4 linked regions of the Homo sapiens genome follow. The protein of the gene in region 3 purifies or fractionates together with the protein of the main gene of each other region. This does not show direct contact. Each region holds a gene or a part of one and is shown on either strand. Other genes may lie near its edges.

Evidence for each region. Proteins that work in one complex are often made in the same cells at the same time.
Region 1: the proteins of THADA (region 3) and TMEM9B purify together in Homo sapiens (co-immunoprecipitation; one large-scale study listed by IntAct). This does not show direct contact.
Region 2: the proteins of THADA (region 3) and VSIG1 purify together in Homo sapiens (co-immunoprecipitation; one large-scale study listed by IntAct). This does not show direct contact.
Region 4: the proteins of THADA (region 3) and HTR1E purify together in Homo sapiens (co-immunoprecipitation; one large-scale study listed by IntAct). This does not show direct contact.

What each region holds. Positions count from the first base shown.
Region 1 is NC_000011.10:8,950,148-8,955,409, reverse strand, and holds part of TMEM9B (transmembrane protein 9B isoform a precursor), read left to right. Parts: intron 1-2,072; coding exon 2,073-2,207; intron 2,208-5,262. UniProt on the Homo sapiens protein: Enhances production of pro-inflammatory cytokines induced by TNF, IL1B, and TLR ligands. Has a role in TNF activation of both the NF-kappaB and MAPK pathways.
Region 2 is NC_000023.11:108,047,098-108,052,359, reverse strand, and holds part of VSIG1 (V-set and immunoglobulin domain-containing protein 1 isoform 2 precursor), read right to left. Parts: intron 1-5,262.
Region 3 is NC_000002.12:43,229,562-43,234,167, reverse strand, and holds the end of THADA (tRNA (32-2'-O)-methyltransferase regulator THADA), read left to right. Parts: intron 1-1,285; coding exon 1,286-1,455; intron 1,456-2,824; coding exon 2,825-3,220; 3' UTR 3,221-3,317; downstream 3,318-4,606. UniProt on the Homo sapiens protein: Together with methyltransferase FTSJ1, methylates the 2'-O-ribose of nucleotides at position 32 of the anticodon loop of substrate tRNAs.
Region 4 is NC_000006.12:87,012,887-87,017,974, forward strand, and holds the end of HTR1E (5-hydroxytryptamine receptor 1E), read left to right. Parts: intron 1-2,263; 5' UTR 2,264-2,448; coding exon 2,449-3,546; 3' UTR 3,547-3,793; downstream 3,794-5,088. UniProt on the Homo sapiens protein: G-protein coupled receptor for 5-hydroxytryptamine (serotonin). Also functions as a receptor for various alkaloids and psychoactive substances.

The DNA.
Region 1 (5,262 bases), on a different chromosome or scaffold from region 3:
ATAATGTAATAATAATAGAAATAAAGTGCACAATAAATGTAATGTGCTAGAATCATACCCAAACCATCCCCTACCACCCCTGGTCCATGAAAAAATTGTCTTCCATGAAACTGGTCCCGTCCCTGGTGCCAAAAAGGTTGTGGAGTATTGCTGTAGTAAATGGGATGTAGATCACTCTCATCACCATTTGTATTTCTAATGAGTTCAGTTACTTTATTATAGTGGCTAATGGTTTTTCTTCCAATTTTTTTTTTTTTTTGAGATGGAGTCTTGCTCTATTGCCCAGGCTGGAGTGCAGTGGTGTAATCTTGGCTCACTGCAACCTCCGCCTCCTGGGTCCAAGCGATTCTCCTGCCTCAGCCTCCTGAGTAGCTGGGATTACAGGCATGCACCACCACGCCCAGCTAATTTTTGTATTTTTAGTAGAGACAGGATTTCACCATGTTGGTCAGGCTGGTCTCGAACTCCTGACCTCGTGGTCCACCCATCTTGGCCTCCCAAAGTGCTGGGATTGCAGGTGTGAGCCACCGCGCCTGGCCTAATTTTTTTTTACATGGCACTTCCCATTCCTTTCCCCCCAAAAGGCCCTGTGGGGAATGTGGGGTGGTTAGTTATAATAGTCACAAACATTTCTGCTGTGATTGACCCTGTGGAAGAGCTCTTGCTCCAGCAGGGTGCTGAACTTTAGATAAATCCTCACTGTACTATTATTTAACAGATTTGTAAAAAATATACAACTTATGTACCCTAAAAGTCACTCACTATAAGTATACAATTCTATAAATTTTAGTAGATTTAAAACATTTTAAAATCCAGTTTCAGGCCAGGCATGGTGGCTCACATCTATAATCCCAGCACTTTGGAAGTCCGAGGCGGGTGGATCACTTGAGGTCAGGAGTTCGAGACCAGCCTGTCCAACGTGGTGAAACCCCATCTCTACTAAAAATATAAAAATTAGCCAGGTGTGGTGGCACGCACCTGTAGTCCCAGCTACTTGGGAGGCTACGGCATGAGAATCACTTGATCCTGGAGGCAGAGGTTGCAGTGAGCTGAGATCGTGCCACTGCACTCCAGTGAGACTCTGTCTCAAAAAAAAAAAAATAAAATCCAGTTTCAGAACATTCCCACTACCCCAAAAAGATCCCTCATGCCCATTTACAGTTAATTCCCATTTCCAGCCCTACTCGGTCACTAGTCTACTTTCTGTCTCTGCATACATGGACATTTCATGTATATGGAATCATATAATATATAGTCTTCTGTGACTGGCTTCTTTCATTTAGCACAATGTTTTTGATGTTTATGCAAGTTGTAGCATGTATCAGTACTTCGTTTCTTTTTATTGCTGAATAGTATTTCACTATATGAATATGCATTTATCAGTTGATGGACGTTTGGATTATGTCTGGGTTTTTACTATTATGAATAATACTGTTGTGAATATCTGCACATATGTCTTTGTATGGATATATATGTTTTCCATTCTCTTGGGTTAATTCCTTAGAATGGTAAAATTATGTTTAACTTTTTAAGAGACTGCCAGATTGTTTCCCAAAGTGGTTGTACCACTTTACATTCCCACCACAGCGTATGAGGGCTGTTTCTCCATATCCTTGCTAATACTTGGTATTGTCTATTTATTTTATTGTAGTCCTTCTAGTGGGTGTGTCACACTGTACTTTTTCTCAGTACATGAATTAAGGTCACAAGAAAAAATCACCGGCCTAGAAAATACTTTTGTATATCTAAATTGAGCTAAAGAGTAGCTGAATTTAGGACATTATGTTCAGCTGGGAAAAGAAACAAACTGCTGTGCTAGCAGTGGTGACAGGTGATTAGCAGTAGGTGAAGTTGGAGTCTTGAAGACTTGCAAAAAAATCCCAAAGATCTTTCCTCTTTTTTTCTTAAATAATACTTTGGTGAAGAGTTGAGTTTATTTCTTATATTGCTATCTGGTTTGTATAGAAATCCTATAGGCTTAGCAGATATGTCAGTCAGTTTTACTATTATCATACAAAGTTCTGATTTATGGGCTTGAACAAAGATGTAACTTAATTTTCAATTTCCTTTAGGTTACCATTATAATTTATCTCTCCATTTTGGGCCTTCTACTTCTGTACATGGTATATCTTACTCTGGTTGAGCCCATACTGAAGAGGCGCCTCTTTGGACATGCACAGTTGATACAGAGTGATGATGATATTGGGGTAAGTTCCCAGCCTGCCCTAGCTGCTCATGGCCAGTCCCTGTCATCATTCGATGTGAAGTGCAAGTGAAAAATAGTCATATATAGATGTTCACGTGCTGAAGCAGATCCTCAACTAGAGAAGCTAAAAACAGCTCTGATTTCAGTATATACCTCTTTATGAAGAAATTGCTTGATGAAGCCATAAATGTGATGATTTAAACGATGATCTTTGGTGAGCATGCTATACAGGGCCTTGCTTTCAGTACCAAAGGCACAATTTTATTGCCATTCCCTGTTTACATTGAGAAAAGTATCAGAGATGGTTTTCTCTCCAAGCTCTCCTGCCTGAAACACCTTCTCTGTCAATATCACCAAATATTTTAGAAGGCAGAGAGGTTTTCATCAAGGGAAGTGTGAAGATCATGATGTTCTTTTCTTAATGAAGTACAACTTGATAACCTGCTGATGTTTTATATTTCCTTTTTTTCTACTGCTTAAAAAAAAATCTGTGGGCCAGGTGTGGGGGCATACACCTGTAATCCCAGCACTTTGGGAGGCCAAGGTGGGAGGATCACTTGAGCCCAGGAGTTCAAGACCACCCTGGTCAACATGGTGAGACCCTGTCTCTACAAAAAATAAAAGCATTAGCCGGGTGTGGTGGTGCATGCCTGTGGTCCCAACTATTCAGGAGGCTGAGACAGGAGTGTCACTTGACCCCAGGAGTTTGAGGCTGCAGAACTGTGATCACACCATAGGACTCCAGCCTAAGCAACACAGCAAGAAGCCTGTTTAAAAAAAAAGAAAAAAAAAATCTGAGATCTTTAGAGAAAAATAAAACCATGACTACCATCACTCCAGATTCTCTTCCTGTCTTTAAATCTCTCACACACACACACACACACGTGTGTACATTATATATGTTTATATATATATATATATAGCGTGTGTGTGTGTGTGTGTGTGTGTGTGTGTATATAGTTGGCATAATCTGTATAAATTGCTTCATGGTCTCCTTTTTGTTTTAATATTCGTTTATTCAAAAATGTCCAGAAATTGACTTAGTCCACAAATCTGTTTTTCAGTGTAGCTTAGAGAATGTTTTTTTTGTTTTTTGAGACGGAGTCTCACTCTGTCGCCCATGCTGGAGTGCAGTGGCGTGACTTTGGCTCACTACAACCTCAGCCTCCCAAGTTCAAGCAATTCTCCTGCCTCAGCCTCCCAGGTAGCTGGTTCTACAGGCACCTGCCACCACGCCTGGCTAATTTTTTTTGTATTTTTAGTAGAGACGGAGTTTCACCATTTTGGCCAGGCTGCTCTTGAACTCCTGACCTCAAGTGATCAGCTCGCCTCGGCCTCCCAAAGTGCTGGGATTACAGGTGTGAGCCACTGCGCCTGGCTGGATATTTTTGTTTCATCATTACCCTGTATGAAATTGTTTCTGAATTTTCCTTTTTTTTTTTTTTTGAGACGCAGTCTCGCTCTGTTGCCCCGGCTGGACTGCAGTGGTGCGATCTCAGCGCACTGCAAGCTCCGCCTCCCGGGTTCACGCCATTCTCCTGCCTCAGCCTCCCAAGTAGCTGGAACTACAGGCGCCCGCCATCGCGCCCGGCTAATTTTTCGTATTTTTTTTTTCTAGTAGAGACGGGGTTTCACTGTGTTAGCCAGGATGGTCTCAATCTCCTGACCTCATGATCCCCCTGCCTCGGCCTCCCAAAGTGCTGGGATTACAGGCGTGAGCCACCGCACCCAGCTGAATTTTCCATTCTTTCATTATTATATATAATTATTTTTTTAGAAATTACTTTTTCTCGTGGATTATTATATTGGACTATGTTCCTTAAAATGGGTAAAATTCAGAATAGTTTTAAGGTTCAATTCAAAAGCCAAACCCAGAGTGAGCCCTTGCCAGCCAGTCAAAAGTCCTTTTACCCTGGAATGGCTCGTGCATCTATAGGCATAGACGTTGAAAGTCTTAAACGACATCCTTCCTTTACAGCGTTAAATATCTGTTCCTGATTTCAGAAATAGACAATATAATAACACAAAACATAAGAGAAATGGATGTAGAGATGAAAACATGTAGGGCAGGCATTTAATTGGTGGGATCACATGCTCAGTAATTGTTTTGTCCACCAGTGATTGATTCTGCTTGTGTATTGACTATTTGAGAACACTGTCTCTGTGAGGCCTGGCTGACTCTTGGATGTCTTTTAAACTGATTCTAGGCAGAGAGGTTTTCTGACCAGAGCTGTGAATTTATGGTAACAACTCTACAAAAATAAGTGAATTTTAATTTTTAAAACTGTTGCTTATCCAAGATGTGAGTTCTGCACTATTTATATACTTTAAAAATGTTTTTGTTGAACTATCAGTTTTCATTTTTTCTGTTTTTGTTCAGTGTAGAGCATTTTAAAGCAAATAAAAGTGAGTACAAATAGTTAAGCTCACTGCAAGTAGTCACAATATTTACTATATCATATATCCATGACACATCATCGTTATTACCAAAGCATTACAGTAAAACATGTTTTGTATTTATTGTAATTTTATCAGGTGTGAAAAGAACAAACATAAAAAGGGTAAATCTCTATTTGCATTCCCCCAGCATCTGTGACCATGAGCAGCTAGTTCAATCTCGTTCTGATGGATAGAGAGCAGACCCAAAGGATTAGCTGGTTTGTTTAGTCTTTTGAACTTGTTCCTTAAGAAGATTTTTCTCCCCTACCTTGAAGAATAGATAACAGCACTAGGCAACTGAGAGGTCCTCTGCCGATCAAGTACATCCTTCTTCCCAGTATTGCTTATGTCAAAACAAACCAATGGTGATAATATTTTCCTCCTCTGGTCCTTGACTTCAGGGGATGATATTTTATACACAAATTCACTGAAGCACCATATTCTTATAGTGTCATTTTAATCTACCTGACCAAAATCTGTTTTGAGACAATATAACACCAAGTCAGGGTTAGGCAGGCTAAGTTTTAGTCTTTATGCTAATTTGTTAAATGACCTTGGGTCAATTTATTGCCATAATGGAAAATCAAGCAATTCTATAACTTTAGCCTGCCTCCTTT
Region 2 (5,262 bases), on a different chromosome or scaffold from region 3:
CCCAAAGTGGCGGGATTACAGGCATGAGCCACCACATCTGGCCTACCTATCTTTTGTTTCGTTTTGTTTTTTTCATAGCAGGAACATTTAAAATCTATTATTTTTTTGAATACTTTTTTGGGGAACAGGTGATGTTTGGTTACGTGGATAAGTTCATTAGTGGTGATTTCTGAGATTTTGGTGCCCCCATTACCCGAACAGTGTACACTGTACCCAATGTGTAGACTAAAATCTTATGCTTTTAGCAGTTTTGAAATGCACATACATTATTATCAACTATGGTGAGCATGCTGCAAAATAGGTCTTAAAAACTTATTCCTCTTGTCTAACTGGAACTTTGTACCCTTTGGTCAACTTCTCCCCATTTCCCACTCCCTCCAAGCCACAGTCCCTGGTAACCATTCTACTCTAATTCTGAGTTCAACTCTTTTAGATCTCACATATAAGTGAGATTATGTGGTGTTTGTCTTTCTGTGTCTGGCTTGCTTCACTTAGCATAATGTCCCCCAGGTTCATTCATGCTGTAGCAAATGACAGAATTTCCTTCTTTCTTATATTTTTATAACTTCTTTTTCTTTTCTGCAAGTTTCCTTTTTTTTCTTTATTTGTTTTAAGATAATGTTAATTGATTGTTGAGGCATTTTTATGATGGCTACTTTGAAATCCTTGTCAGATAATTCCAACATCGAACTCATCTTAATGTTGGCAGTAGTTGCCTTTTCTCAGTCAAGTTGTGATTTACTTGATTCTTGGTATGACAGATGATTTTTGATTGAACATTTTGTCTACTATGTTAGGAAACTCATATTTACATTTTTTATTTTTGCAGTCAGTCACATTATTTATGCTTCACATGCAAGCAGGTGTTGGCTTACTTTTGTGGTCTGTTGTTCTAACAGCAGTTTAATTTTCAGTATTGTTTTGCTCTGTTTGGTTTATCGGATATCACTGAGGCTGACATTTGTCCCAGATCATATCGCCTGAAGGAGCAGAAAGGTTTCCCTAGGTCAGGCTTCCAGGTGCCTCTCAGTTGGGGTAGGTATGGTGGGACACTTCTACTGGCGCCCTGCACTGTTGGTGTCTCTATGGGTAGGAGAGGACAGTCATACACCCACTGAGACAGAGCCTTCCCAGACTGGGCCGCTTGCCATCACTTTATGCCTCGTGTCTGTTCTACCCTCCCACCTCGATATCTCTAGGTGAAAGTGGGACATCTCAGGCCTGGGGAGAAGGCAAATGCTTCTTTTGTCCACTGTTGTTGGTGGGGTTTCTGAAGATCCCCCCTTACCTGTGGTGTTGGGCCTACCTGATGTTGTCAGAGGGACTCTGAGGGAGGAGTAAGCTTACCTGGGCTGCCCTCTGTTGTTCAGTTGGGTATCAGGAATGGCCAGGACTAGGTTTCTTTCTTCTGCTGGGTGGGAAACATAGGATACCCTTGCTCTTTGTTTTTCCCTGGGTCTCAAACCAGTTTGCCTTCTCCTTACAACCTTCCAGAGTTCTACCCTGGTTGTCTCTTGCATTATTTCCAGGGTTTATACTTGTGCTTAGCAGGGAGGAACAATGAAAAACAGGTCTGTACTACATGTCCAGACCAGAAATCTCCCTCAGTTTTTAAGAGTGTAAAATTGTCCTGAGACCACAAATTTTGAGAACTGTTGGCCTTACAGAAAGATGAAGTAATTAAGCTCCCCATAGGATTTGGAGGCCCACCGAAGGGCACCCTACCCAAATCCAGCCTGCCACTACACTAAAATTCTCAGTTCTATATGAGCACTTTCCAAAGGGCTATTTTAGGTGATGGCACTTTGGGGAGCACTATACAGTCACTGTCTTATCTTATTAACTGGTTGCTATGCATTGCATTGTCGAAGACTATAAAAGTTCTCCAGGATGGGTCACGGGATTGGCAGGCAAGCACTGGAAGAGAAAGTCAAGTTCAAGAGACGCTCTCTATGCTGTCCTAGTTGCCTGCAGGGTAACAGAGGGTGTTGGAGGGTTGAGGGTGAAGGGATGAGGATACAGAAATTATGAAAGATTCAGAGGAAATTGCATAGAGGGACTAATTCCTGTCCATCTTCCCAATTTTGCATACCCAAAGACTTATTTATTTCATATTTTTCTTACTTAATGACAGCAGTCAGACAAAAAGAACTTAAAGGATTGACAAACACTTTTAAAAAGTAAAAGAAAAAAAATCGTTGTACTGATTACTCTTGGTTTCATGGATTCAATATCTGTGTTCTCTGTCACAGCCAGGTCACCTGGTCCAGCTGCTTTCCTGCCAGAAGCTGGCTGTTTACATGGCAACCAATGCACTGATAAATTAAGAAAAGTGCCTGAATGCAAACAAAAATGCAGCACTTTTTAACTCCATACAGTTTCCCTCTTCCCAATATTCTCCTCCCCATGCTTTCCTGGTTTCCATAATGCCTCCTCCAAAAAGGAAATTGGCTTTCAGAAAGCAGCTAATCTTTCCAACAAAAACTTCACTGGAGAAAGATGGTTCCCTCCCACCCTCAAAGAGCCCATTTCATTTCTCCTGGAAGTTAGCCACATCTCTGGCCGTGCTTAAATGATGACTTCCAAATGTCTTTAAAGTGTCCAAAATAAAAAGGATAAAACTGGGGTTTTGGTAGCCCTTAAAGTTCCCAGACTTATTCCCTAAAAACAGAGATTTTAGAGATATTATTTGGCCATAATTTTTGTTCTCTAGTTTGGGACCCAGTATCTGTTACGAGATTGGTTAAGGGTGAGAATTTATGAACAGATAAGGCAAAACAATAAACAAAACCCCACAAACCCCCTTTGAAGACCACTCTTGGAAAAAGTGTTTGATGGCAGAGTACACACAGTACTCACACAAGTCAAGCCATGGAAGAGGCTGTGGAGCCTAGCAACAAATATCAATTGAGCACCCATTTTGTGCCACAAACAGTGCTGAACACTGGGGAAACAAGAATGAACATGACAGACACAATCTCTGCCATCCCTCAGTGCAGCAGGAAGCCATTTATAGCACAGATGAGAATAGAGGTGAATGAAAATCAAGGATTTGGAAAATATAAATCTGATTCAAACATTTCTAACATTTTAAATATAGAAGATATATAAATGTGTAACTAATTAGAAATCTGCAAAAGTTTAATAATATCACCTTGGAATTAGGATGGTAATTTCAAATTTTAAAGTGAGACAATATTTTTTGAGGTACTACACATTGTCATGTAAATAAGTAACAGTTGGCAAAGCAAAACCTCCAGGCCATTTTATTGCCCAGATTCCCAATTCTTAGCACCATAACCAATTAAATTCTGAAGAAAAGATGTTTTTCAGACATTGTCCAACCATGATATAGTGATGATATGCTTCAGAGCTAAAAGTTATATATTTCCAGATGAGCCTTTTTAAAATGTCACATCATTCAATTAGTGCACATTACTTAAAACCTCTGAGCTCACCCTTACAGTGCTGTCCAACAGAACTTCCTGTGATGATGGAAATGTTCTATCTCTGCGCCATCCAGTTCAGTAGCCCAAATAGAATTATCAAACACTTGAAATGTGGCTAGTGAAACTGAGGAACTGACTTTATAATTTTCATTAATCTGAAGTGATTTAAATTTCAATAGCCACATGTAGACAATGGGCAGTGCAAACTTAGTCCTAAAGTGGAGGTGATTCTCTGAGTGTCAGGGAAAAAAGTTCCCTTCCTTTGGATTAAGTCATTCTAAGTTGAGAAATTATTTAAAAATTGAATAAGTCAGAAAAATCTCTACATCAATAGGACTGTGAATAAATAGCAAAGTAAAGATTAGTATCTGATTTAAACAAAACCCAAGAACGCAATGTCCCTCTCTGACTTGACCAAATTTAAAAACAAAACAAAAATGCATATGTGGTTGAAATATGTGTAATCTCTTTTAAAAACCAGTGCTTACCTGCACGTTGTGCACATGTATCCTAAAACTTAAAGTATAATAATAATTAAAAAAGTGCTTATTATTAAAGAAAAATAATCCAAGATGTACACACTTAATCAACATTTAAAAATATTTTTAGGCTGGGCGCAGTGGCTCACGCCTGTAATCCCAACACTTTGGGAGGCTGAGGTGGGCGGGTCGCCTGAGGTTGGGAGTTCAAGACCAGCCTGACCAACATGGAGAAACCCTGTCTCTACCAAAAATACAAAATTAGCCGGGCGTGGTGGTGCATGCCTGTAATCCCAGCTACTCAGGAGGCTGAGGCAGTAGAATCACTTGAACCCGGAAGGCGGAAGTTGCGGTGGGCCGAGATCGTGCCATTGCACTCCAGCCTGGGCAACAAGACTTAACTTCGTCTCAAAAGAATATATATATGTGTATATATATATATATATATATATATATATATATATATATATGTGTGTGTATATATATATATATATGTGTATATATATATATGTGTATATATATATGTGTATATATATATATGTGTGTATATATATATATGTGTATATATATATGTGTATATATATATGTATATATATATGTGTATATATATGTATATATATATGTATATATATATATATATAGAGAGAGAGAGAGAGAGAGAGAGAGAATGTCTTGTATTTTGGTGGTGATTGTTCATTCATTTAATGCCTACAAGGTGGCAAACATTTTGCTTATAGAAGGATTATTATCCTCCTAATGTACCACAGCAAAATATCCCCCAAATATTCATATTTAATCTGATAGATTTGAAGTGATTTAATTTCCAGCAACTTCATATATAATAGATTCATTTTGACTTAGGAAATAATATAATCAAATGATCACTCACTTTTTTGGATTTGAGTGCAAACTCAAAGTTCAAATATATTACTCCTTTAAAATGCATAGCATATACCTCCAGAAAATGAAACCCACATTAACATATCTTTCTAAGAGGTGACTAATACATATTTCAAATACCTAAAATGATATGCATAAATTTTTTGCAGAAGTTTGATTAAAACTCGTTTTCCTGAATTAGAATTTAACCTAAGAATTCCTAAGAAGTCATTGAAAATATTTTGATTTAAGCAAAATCTGACCTGTTTAGTTATATCAAAATCAATTTTAAATATGTATGTGAAAATGATGTCTGGATGTTTGGAATTTGGGAAAGTAATTCATTCTTTCAACAAACATTTACTATGCATCCACTATGTGTTAGGCACCACGCTTAACACCAAAAAGTGACATTCTCTCCAAAACAAGTCCAGGAAGAACATCAAATTGCACAT
Region 3 (4,606 bases):
TGGGTTACATAATACCCAACCCATAGGATGCTAGAAGGACTGGGGAGACAGCATTTGATCAGGGCCTGGCACTCACTAGGCCCTCAGTGGGGCCATCCCAGTAAGCCTGGTTCAACACCCACGGGAACTAAGCCTGCTGTTGCAGATTCTCGGTCGTCTGCCTGTGTGCCGAGTAAGTCTTTCGGGGGCCAGATGGTCAGGGTAAGTCTGTGTGCTCAAGTTAGAGATGTGGATTTGGGAGTGATCAGGGCTCAATAGAAATGCATCATTGAAAGACAGGCCTTTCAATGTCAGTTGGTGCAAGATGGGCCTACAGAGGTCCATTGTGCAGTGGGCTTTCAGTCCCGTGTTTCAGACACCCTCCAGGTTTGGGATGGGAGGGGCAGAGTTGTTAGGGGAAGTGACAACACCCCTGAGCCTCCCTCCAAACCCATATTTAGGATTGTCTAAGGCCAAATGTTGAAATAAGCAATGGTTTCCCCAAGGCCCCCTGCTTCCTCTTTCTGCACCCTTCTATTCTTTCAGTGCCCTTCCTCCAAGCACCCAGGAAAACAAGGGTCCAAAAACAAAAAACTCCGAGACAGAGGGCAGCAAAATAGGAGCCAAATGCAGCCTACCACCTGCTTTTTACAGCCCATGAGCTATCAATGGTTTTTACATTTTTAATTGGTTGGGAAAAAATAATATTTTGTGACACATTAAATTCAAATTTCAGTGTCCATAAATAAAGTTTTATTGGAACACAGCCACAACCATTTGTTTACAGATTGTCCATGGCTGCTTTCAGCCGAGGTGAGGAGGTATAGGCTTGCAAAGTCTAAAATATTGACTCTCTGGCCCTTTAAGGAAAAGCTTGCCGATGCCCTGCTCTAGGATGTGTCTTGTGCCCAAGAGATCTGCTTTCCAAGGAAAGGGCAAACCAGTCAAATCCAGGCAGATGTGCAGAGGAGACACTGGACAGGGAAGCCTTCCTGATCCTTCTGGTGACACTGGAGGAGCAGAGGGGAGATAACTCTCTAATCCTGCAGATGGAACTGCTTCTGTCCACACTGAGTTAGGGGGCATGGAAACAGTGGGTTCAGGCCTATGACTCATTCTAACAGTATAAATAGCAGGATTCAGAAGGTGATTAATCGTCTCCAGTGAGCCCACCCTACCAGCTTCCCTGCCAGGCTGGTGGCAGCGATTTTACCTGAGGCCTTTATTGTTCCCAGGGTCCTGCAGGCTGCCCTGGGGTCGGCCCTGAGCAGTATATTCATTGCTCACCTTTCTCCTGTCTTTGCAGAGTTTGCCTTCTGCCAGGTGGATGCCTCCATCGCTCTGGCCCTGGCCCTGGCCGTCCTGTGTGATCTGCTCCAGCAGTGGGACCAGTTGGCCCCTGGACTGCCCATCCTGCTGGGATGGCTGTTGGGAGAGAGTGATGACCTCGTGGCCTGTGTGGAGAGCATGCATCAGGTGATCCCGGGGTGTCAGGGGAGTAGGAGGCAGGGTTGGAGTGTCCTAAACCCGCTAGATGCAGCACCTACAGCCTCAGCTGGGCTTTTGCATGCTTAGACACAGAGCAGGAACCACTAGGAAAGTCACCCACTGGGTGCTGCCGAGGACACGGGGACACTCTTAGGCTGACTTCTGGGGTGCTGATGGTCAGCCTCCAGCTTAGCCAGGGGAGAGAACTCGGAAAGAAGCCCCTGGCCGGGCACAGCGGCTCATGCTTGTAATCCCAGCACTTTGGGAGGCCAAGGCAGGCGGATCATGAGGTCAGGAGATCGAGACCATCCTGGCTAACACGGTGAAACCCCGTCTCTACTAAAAATACAAAAAATTAGCCGGGCATGGTGGTGGGTGCCTGTAGTCCCAGCTACTCGGGAGGCTGAGGCAGGAGAATGGCGTGAACCTGGGAGGCGGAGGTTGCAGTGAGCCGAGATTGCACCACTGCACTCCAGCCTGGGCAACAGAGCAAGACTCCATCTCAAAAAAAAAAGAAAAGAAAAGAAAAGAAAAAAAGAAGCCCCTGGATGCGGAGAGTTTTATTATGGAGACTGCTTGTTAGTCAGTATTGGAGTTAGCCTGGGGCTTCCCAAAGTTAGGTCTGAGGGTGAAGCATTTTCAGAGAATTAGGATCTTTGCTGGGAACTTCCTGCTTGAAGAAAACTATTATTAGCCCCCTCCAGGGTGGGTGCAGTCACAGATAGGGAAACTGAGGACAAAGACAAGCAGCAAAAGCATCCTGAGAACTGAAATTGATCGCCACCAGCATCTGACTCAGCTGGCCTTCTTGGCATCCCCAGCAGGCCAAGGGTTCAAAACGCATTGTCCCTCTTTATGAGAAATTTGGAGACATGGTAAGTGTCTGACAAAAGGACCTTGAGAATCACAGTGTTATAGAAACAGGACACAGCCTAGTGTCCTGTGTTTGGAGATTCCTTCCTCTCTGGCCTGCTGCAGAGATGACCTTTCCTCCCTCCTCTCCAATTTCCAGCTGCACCTTAAACTCTAGAGCCCACTCCCTTGTTGAAGTCCCCTTTTCAGCATCCATCCCCCAAAGTATCTTGACTTTGAACCACAAACACATCTTTATCCAAGGTCATGTTAAGTCTGGGGAAAAAATTCCTCTCTGGTGGAGAAATACAGTGAGTGAAAATAGAAGGTGACCTTCAAGGCTGCAAGTGGTGTGTGTACATGGATGTTGACAGGCAAGAGTGCACCCTCTGTCAGGTGGGGGAAGGGAAACCCCTCTTGCATCTGGCAGGGTACTGCTTGGTCTGGACTGGGGCTTGTCACCATTCCCTGTAAGACTGACTTTCGGCTTTTTCATCTGATTTAGGTGGAAGAAGACTACCTGTTTGAAAAAGCAGAAGTCAACTTTTGGGCCGAGACCCTGATCTTTGTGAAATACCTCTGCAAGCACCTCTTCTGTCTCCTCTCAAAGTCCGGCTGGCGTCCCCCAAGCCCTGAGATGCTCTGTCACCTTCAAAGGATGGTGTCAGAGCAGTGCCACCTCCTGTCTCAGTTCTTCAGAGAGCTTCCACCAGCTGCTGAGTTTGTGAAGACAGTGGAGTTCACAAGACTACGCATTCAAGAGGAAAGGACTTTGGCTTGCTTGAGGCTGCTGGCCTTTTTGGAAGGAAAGGAAGGGGAAGACACCCTAGTTCTCAGTGTTTGGGACTCTTATGCAGAATCGAGGCAGTTAACTCTTCCAAGAACAGAAGCGGCATGTTGAAGAAAATCTGGGGGATTGGGATGGGGGTATGTGTGGATTTTTCCTCCACTAAATCTGCAGGAAACATGTTGAACATAAATTCAAAAATTTTATCCCATTCATGCCTCCCCTACTTCTGTGAGTCCAGTCGTCTGTCACTCCTTACAGAGAAACTTTTCTTCAGTTCACTCATTCAGGGCAGCCTATTTTATTGCTGCTACTGTAGGAAGTGAGGCGACTCCGTTGCAGATTTACTCTGTCCCCAGGTGCAGGCCACCTGCAGGCCTGAATGAGCCTTTTTCATCCCCCAGGGCCTCTAATGCCCTGCCATAGCCGCCCTGCATTCTCTGTGAAATGACTACAGAGAGTTGGATTTTAGCACATACACATGATCCCTCCCCTCTCCCCTTTTCTGGCTTTATGTAGGGGCTGGATTAGTTGGCAAACAGCCCATTTGGTCAGATTTGTGAATTTTGTTCCATTTTAGCAAAGCAGAAATATGTTCCAAATGTTGGATCCTGGGAGAATTCAGGATCAACTTTGCACAAATAATTTATTTTTATTGTCTGCATGTGTTAAGTCCTGCAGTGACCTACACATTCCATCCTAATTATTCAAAGAGCCATTGAGCATTTCCCCTACCCCCCAAAAAGTATGCTAATGCTAGGAAACCTGATTTTGCCACCCAGTGAAAGTATATCCGTCCTCTTAGCTGTGAGGAGGAACCTGGGGAAAGGAGAGTCAGAGAAAATGACTTATTCTGTGCCTACATTGTTTACCTATCGCTTGGTGGCAGTAACAAGTGTCTCACTTAAAATGCCATTAAACACATTTATCAGCTGGGCGCGGTGTTTCACACCTGTAATCCCAGCATGTTGGGAGGCTGAGGCGGGTGGATCACAAGGTCAGGAGTTCAAGACCAGCCTGGTCAAGATGGTGAAACCCCCGTCTCTACAAAAAATGCAAAAAAAATTAGCTGGGCGTGGTGGTGGGCGCCTGTAATCCCAGCCACTCGGGAGGCTGAGGCAGAGAATTGCTTGAACCCGGGAAGCGGAGGTTGCAGTGAGCCGAGATCGCACCACTGCACTCCAGCCTGGGCGACAGAGTGAGACTCGTCTCAAACACTCAAACACACACACACACACACACTCTCACTCTCTCTCTCTCTCTCTCACATCCTTTGCAGTGATTTTAATCTAGAAACCTTAATGATTTTCTTCCTTTTCAAGCCCAGCCCAGCCCTCTTCCTCACACATCCAGCAGGTGGCGCTCTTGCAAACGTTTTGCTGCTGGTCCAGTTTTTCACTGGCTCACCATTTTTCATTTATAATTTCAGAATAAGTGTTACCCACTAATAGTTATCTTGAGAATCATAGCTTTGGAAGGGTAGTAGCTTCATCCGCATTC
Region 4 (5,088 bases), on a different chromosome or scaffold from region 3:
GTCAGCATTCAGAGTCCATGTGGGTAGTCACCACTCCAAGCTTTCTCTCCAAAACCGCTGACTCAGGCACACTTTTTAGGTTAAAGTAAATCAGGACTTATGAAGTGAAATGTCAGTTTTCTAATGGAGGAACCAGATCCAAAATATAAAACCCTCTTTAAGATAATTTTTAAGATGAGCAGGTGCCAGCTGACTCCTCCTTCTTGATAATGCTTAGGTGCTTTGGAAACTCTTCCTGGATGAGAAAGAGATTCTTGTCCCTCTTCATCTGCTGCAAAGGACAAAGCCCCAGAAGAATAATATGCCAAAGTCGGCCTTAACATCTATCATCCCTATAACCTCATCTCCCTGGTGCTCTGACCTTCACTGGGATGGTATAAAGCAGAGGCTCTAGAGTATCCCTGGAAATGAGGAGCAGCGTACACTAACCAGTTTGGTTTAGAGTAATTCTCTCCTATTTGTAATTTTTATGAAAAACAATTTAAATATGGCCTTGGACTCATGATATTTTTTATGTCACAATAAAGTGGAAATTTAAAGTTACAAATCCCCAAAAAGGTCCTCCATCAACTCCTCATAGGATGTATCCATTTTTAGCTCTGATTATTGCAGTTAACTTTCCAAAGTGCTGGGATTACAGGTGTGAGCCACCACGCCAGCATATTTACTGTGAAAGTTTAAAATCTGATTTGAAAGCTGCTTATTATAAGCAATATAATTTTTTCTTTAACGGCCCCAGAATGTTTAATGTTACATAATATGAATATATATTTTCAAATGTAAAAAAAAGCCTTTTTATATATAAACATGTATAAAAGAATAAATATAAATAAGAAATTAATTGGGGTGGCAAAGTACATTTAAAATTTTGTGATGTTTTTGTCAAAAACGATTTGAACAAATTTATAGGAAAAAAACAAACAACCCCATCAAAAAGTGGGCGAAGGATATGAACAGCCACTTCTCAAAAGAAAACATTTATGCAACCAACAAACATATGAAAAAAAGCTCATCATCACTGTCATTAGAGAAATGCAAATCAAAACCACAATGAGATACCATTTCACGCCAGTTAGAATGGTGATCATTAAAAAGCCATCATTCTGAGCAAACTATCGCAAGGACAGAAAACCAGACACCACATGTTCTCACTCATAGGTGGGAATTGAACAATGAGAACACCTGGACACAGGGCAGGGAACACCACACACCCGGGCCTGTCGTGGGGTCGGGGGACGGGGGAGTGATAGCATTAGGAGAAATACCTAATGTAAATGACGAGTTAAAGGATGCAGCAAACCAACACGGCACATGTATACATATGTAACAAACCTGCATGTTGTGCACCTGTACCCTAGAACTTAAAGTATAATAATAATAATAATAATAATAATAATAATAATAATAAGGCAGGAAGCAACAGATGCTGGAAAGGATGTGAAGAAATAGGAATGCTTTTACACTGTTGGTGGGAGTGTAAATTAGATCAACCATTGTGGAAGACAGTATGGCGATTCCTCAAGGTTCCAGAACCAGAAATAACATTTGACTCAGCAATCCTATTACTGGGTATATACCCAAAGGATTTTAAATTATTCTACTCTAAAGACACATGGACATGTATGTTTATTGCAGCACTATTCACAATAGCAAAGACTTGGAACCAACCCAAATGCCCATCAGTGATAGACTGGATAAAGAAAATGTGGCACATATACATCATGGAATACTATGCAGCCATAAAAAAGGATGAGTTCATGTCCTTTGCAGGGACATGGATGAGTTGGAAACCATATTCTCAACAAACTAACACAGGAACAGAAAACCAAACACCACATGCTCTCACTCACGAGTGGGAGTTGAACAATGAGAACACATGGGCACAGGGCCGGGAACATGACACACCAGGGCCTGTTGGGGGGTGGAGGGCTAGGGGAGGGATGGCATTAGGAGAAGTACCTAATGTAGATGATTGGTTGTTGGGTGCAGCAAACCACCATGGCACATGTATACCTATGTAGCAAACCTGCAAGTTCTGCACATGTATCCCAGAACTTAAAGTATAATTTAAAAAAAAACAGTTTGAAAACTTCCCTGAAGTAAAAAAAGTATCCTTTGAGGAACAATGTAACGATGAGCTCAAGTTCCACAGGAAAGAGAAAATTAAAATTTATAAAGAATTTATAAATATCAAACTATTTTCATGTTTTCCAGGAAAAGTGTGGCTTTCTCATTCATTAACCAATAGCATAATATTTTCCAGGAACCTTCACTCAGAAGAAATGCTGTGGCCCTTCCCTTTACCAACAGAAAATGGAACACAAGAGACCACATAGCTGAACAAATTATAGCCTCCTTACAAGTGAGAAACCTTCGAGGCTACATAGTTTTCAGCCAAAGGAAAATAACCAACAGCTTCTCCACAGTGTAGACTGAAACAAGGGAAACATGAACATCACAAACTGTACCACAGAGGCCAGCATGGCTATAAGACCCAAGACCATCACTGAGAAGATGCTCATTTGCATGACTCTGGTGGTCATCACCACCCTCACCACGTTGCTGAACTTGGCTGTGATCATGGCTATTGGCACCACCAAGAAGCTCCACCAGCCTGCCAACTACCTAATCTGTTCTCTGGCCGTGACGGACCTCCTGGTGGCAGTGCTCGTCATGCCCCTGAGCATCATCTACATTGTCATGGATCGCTGGAAGCTTGGGTACTTCCTCTGTGAGGTGTGGCTGAGTGTGGACATGACCTGCTGCACCTGCTCCATCCTCCACCTCTGTGTCATTGCCCTGGACAGGTACTGGGCCATCACCAATGCTATTGAATACGCCAGGAAGAGGACGGCCAAGAGGGCCGCGCTGATGATCCTTACCGTCTGGACCATCTCCATTTTCATCTCCATGCCCCCTCTGTTCTGGAGAAGCCACCGCCGCCTAAGCCCTCCCCCTAGTCAGTGCACCATCCAGCACGACCATGTTATCTACACCATTTACTCCACGCTGGGTGCGTTTTATATCCCCTTGACTTTGATACTGATTCTCTATTACCGGATTTACCACGCGGCCAAGAGCCTTTACCAGAAAAGGGGATCAAGTCGGCACTTAAGCAACAGAAGCACAGATAGCCAGAATTCTTTTGCAAGTTGTAAACTTACACAGACTTTCTGTGTGTCTGACTTCTCCACCTCAGACCCTACCACAGAGTTTGAAAAGTTCCATGCCTCCATCAGGATCCCCCCCTTCGACAATGATCTAGATCACCCAGGAGAACGTCAGCAGATCTCTAGCACCAGGGAACGGAAGGCAGCACGCATCCTGGGGCTGATTCTGGGTGCATTCATTTTATCCTGGCTGCCATTTTTCATCAAAGAGTTGATTGTGGGTCTGAGCATCTACACCGTGTCCTCGGAAGTGGCCGACTTTCTGACGTGGCTCGGTTATGTGAATTCTCTGATCAACCCTCTGCTCTATACGAGTTTTAATGAAGACTTTAAGCTGGCTTTTAAAAAGCTCATTAGATGCCGAGAGCATACTTAGACTGTAAAAAGCTAAAAGGCACGACTTTTTCCAGAGCCTCATGAGTGGATGGGGGTAAGGGGTGCAACTTATTAATTCTTGAACATACTTGGTTCAGGAGAGTTTGTAAGTATGTGTGGTCTTGTTTCCTTGTTTGTTTGTTTGTTTTGTTCTGTTTTGTTTGAGGATTGTTATTTGGCGTGCTGTTTTCTACCTCTGGTCTTATCTGTGATACATAATTTCAAATAAACATTATCATACAAAAACAGAAATTTTGTAGAAGTAATAATAAGATGAAATACTAAATACCTTTTATGGGTTTTTTTTTTTTAGCCATTTCAGTTACCCTGCAATTAAAGAATGCCAAAAATATCTTTATTTGCAGAATTTCTTATTACTTATAAATTAAATACCTGATAATGCCCTCCATGGCATTAAATCTGAGATTATGGCTCTATCTGCGTACATATTCCAGTGGGAATTGCATGACTACATAAAGAATTAAAAGAAAGTGATGTGCTGTCATCTACTGCTTGCAGACCTGAGCTAAAGTCGTTTGCTGTAGCACTGTGACTACATAGCCTATTCATTTCAGGTAAAAATAGTACAGCTGGCTTGTCCTTTTTAGTTCATGATTAAATAAACTTCCTCTTTTTCTAAAATGGAAATACCTGGAATAAATGCACTGGCACTTTTCTATGTCTTTTACTATGAATATAAAACATAAAGCAAATAACAAGTCATCTAAATCTACTTTGGTCAGTGTGTTGCAATATTACCTGACAGACACATTGGGCCTCCTCCAATTCTAAAATCTATCCCAGCTAAGCCACCCATATACACTTTCACTGTAGCAGGACAAAGGTAGGAGTACATGTCAAATTTGGGAAACTTTTTAAGAAGCTTAATGAGGTGCAGTGATCAAATGACAGAATATATTATCTGAAGAACTTCATTGGAGACTATTACTCATTAAATTACCAGTTGCAGCCGGGCGTGGTGGCTCACGCCTGTAATCCCAGCACTTCGGGAGGCCAAGGCAGGTGCATCACCTGAGGTCAGGAGTTCGAGACCAAGCTGGCCAACATGGTGAAGCCCCATTTCTGCTAAAAGGGCAAAAATTAGCCAGGCATGGTGGCACGTGCCTGTAATCCCAGCTACTCAGGAGGCTGAGGCAGGAAAATGACTTGAACCTGGGAGGCAGAGGTTGCACTGAGAAGAGATCATGCCACTGCACTCCAGCCTAGGCAACAGAATGAGACCCTGTCTCAAAAAAAAAAAAAAAATTACCAGTTGTGCTCTTGGGGAAAAAAAGTAAAAGTTGAAAAACTGTGTTTACACCAAAGGCCACTCATCAGGATATGAGAATGAAATTGCGTCTCCCAGAATCCCTGTGGCTTCTGTGCCAGACTGTACCCTGGGGCCAGGAGGCTGCAGGTGGGACCTGAAGCCCTGGGTGTGGCCTGAGAAGGAGTGATTGCTCTAGTCACATGGAGGAGTACACCATTACAAAATCAAGAGTGATGGTAGGAGGACTGAAAGTTTGTACATTCTTGCATACTC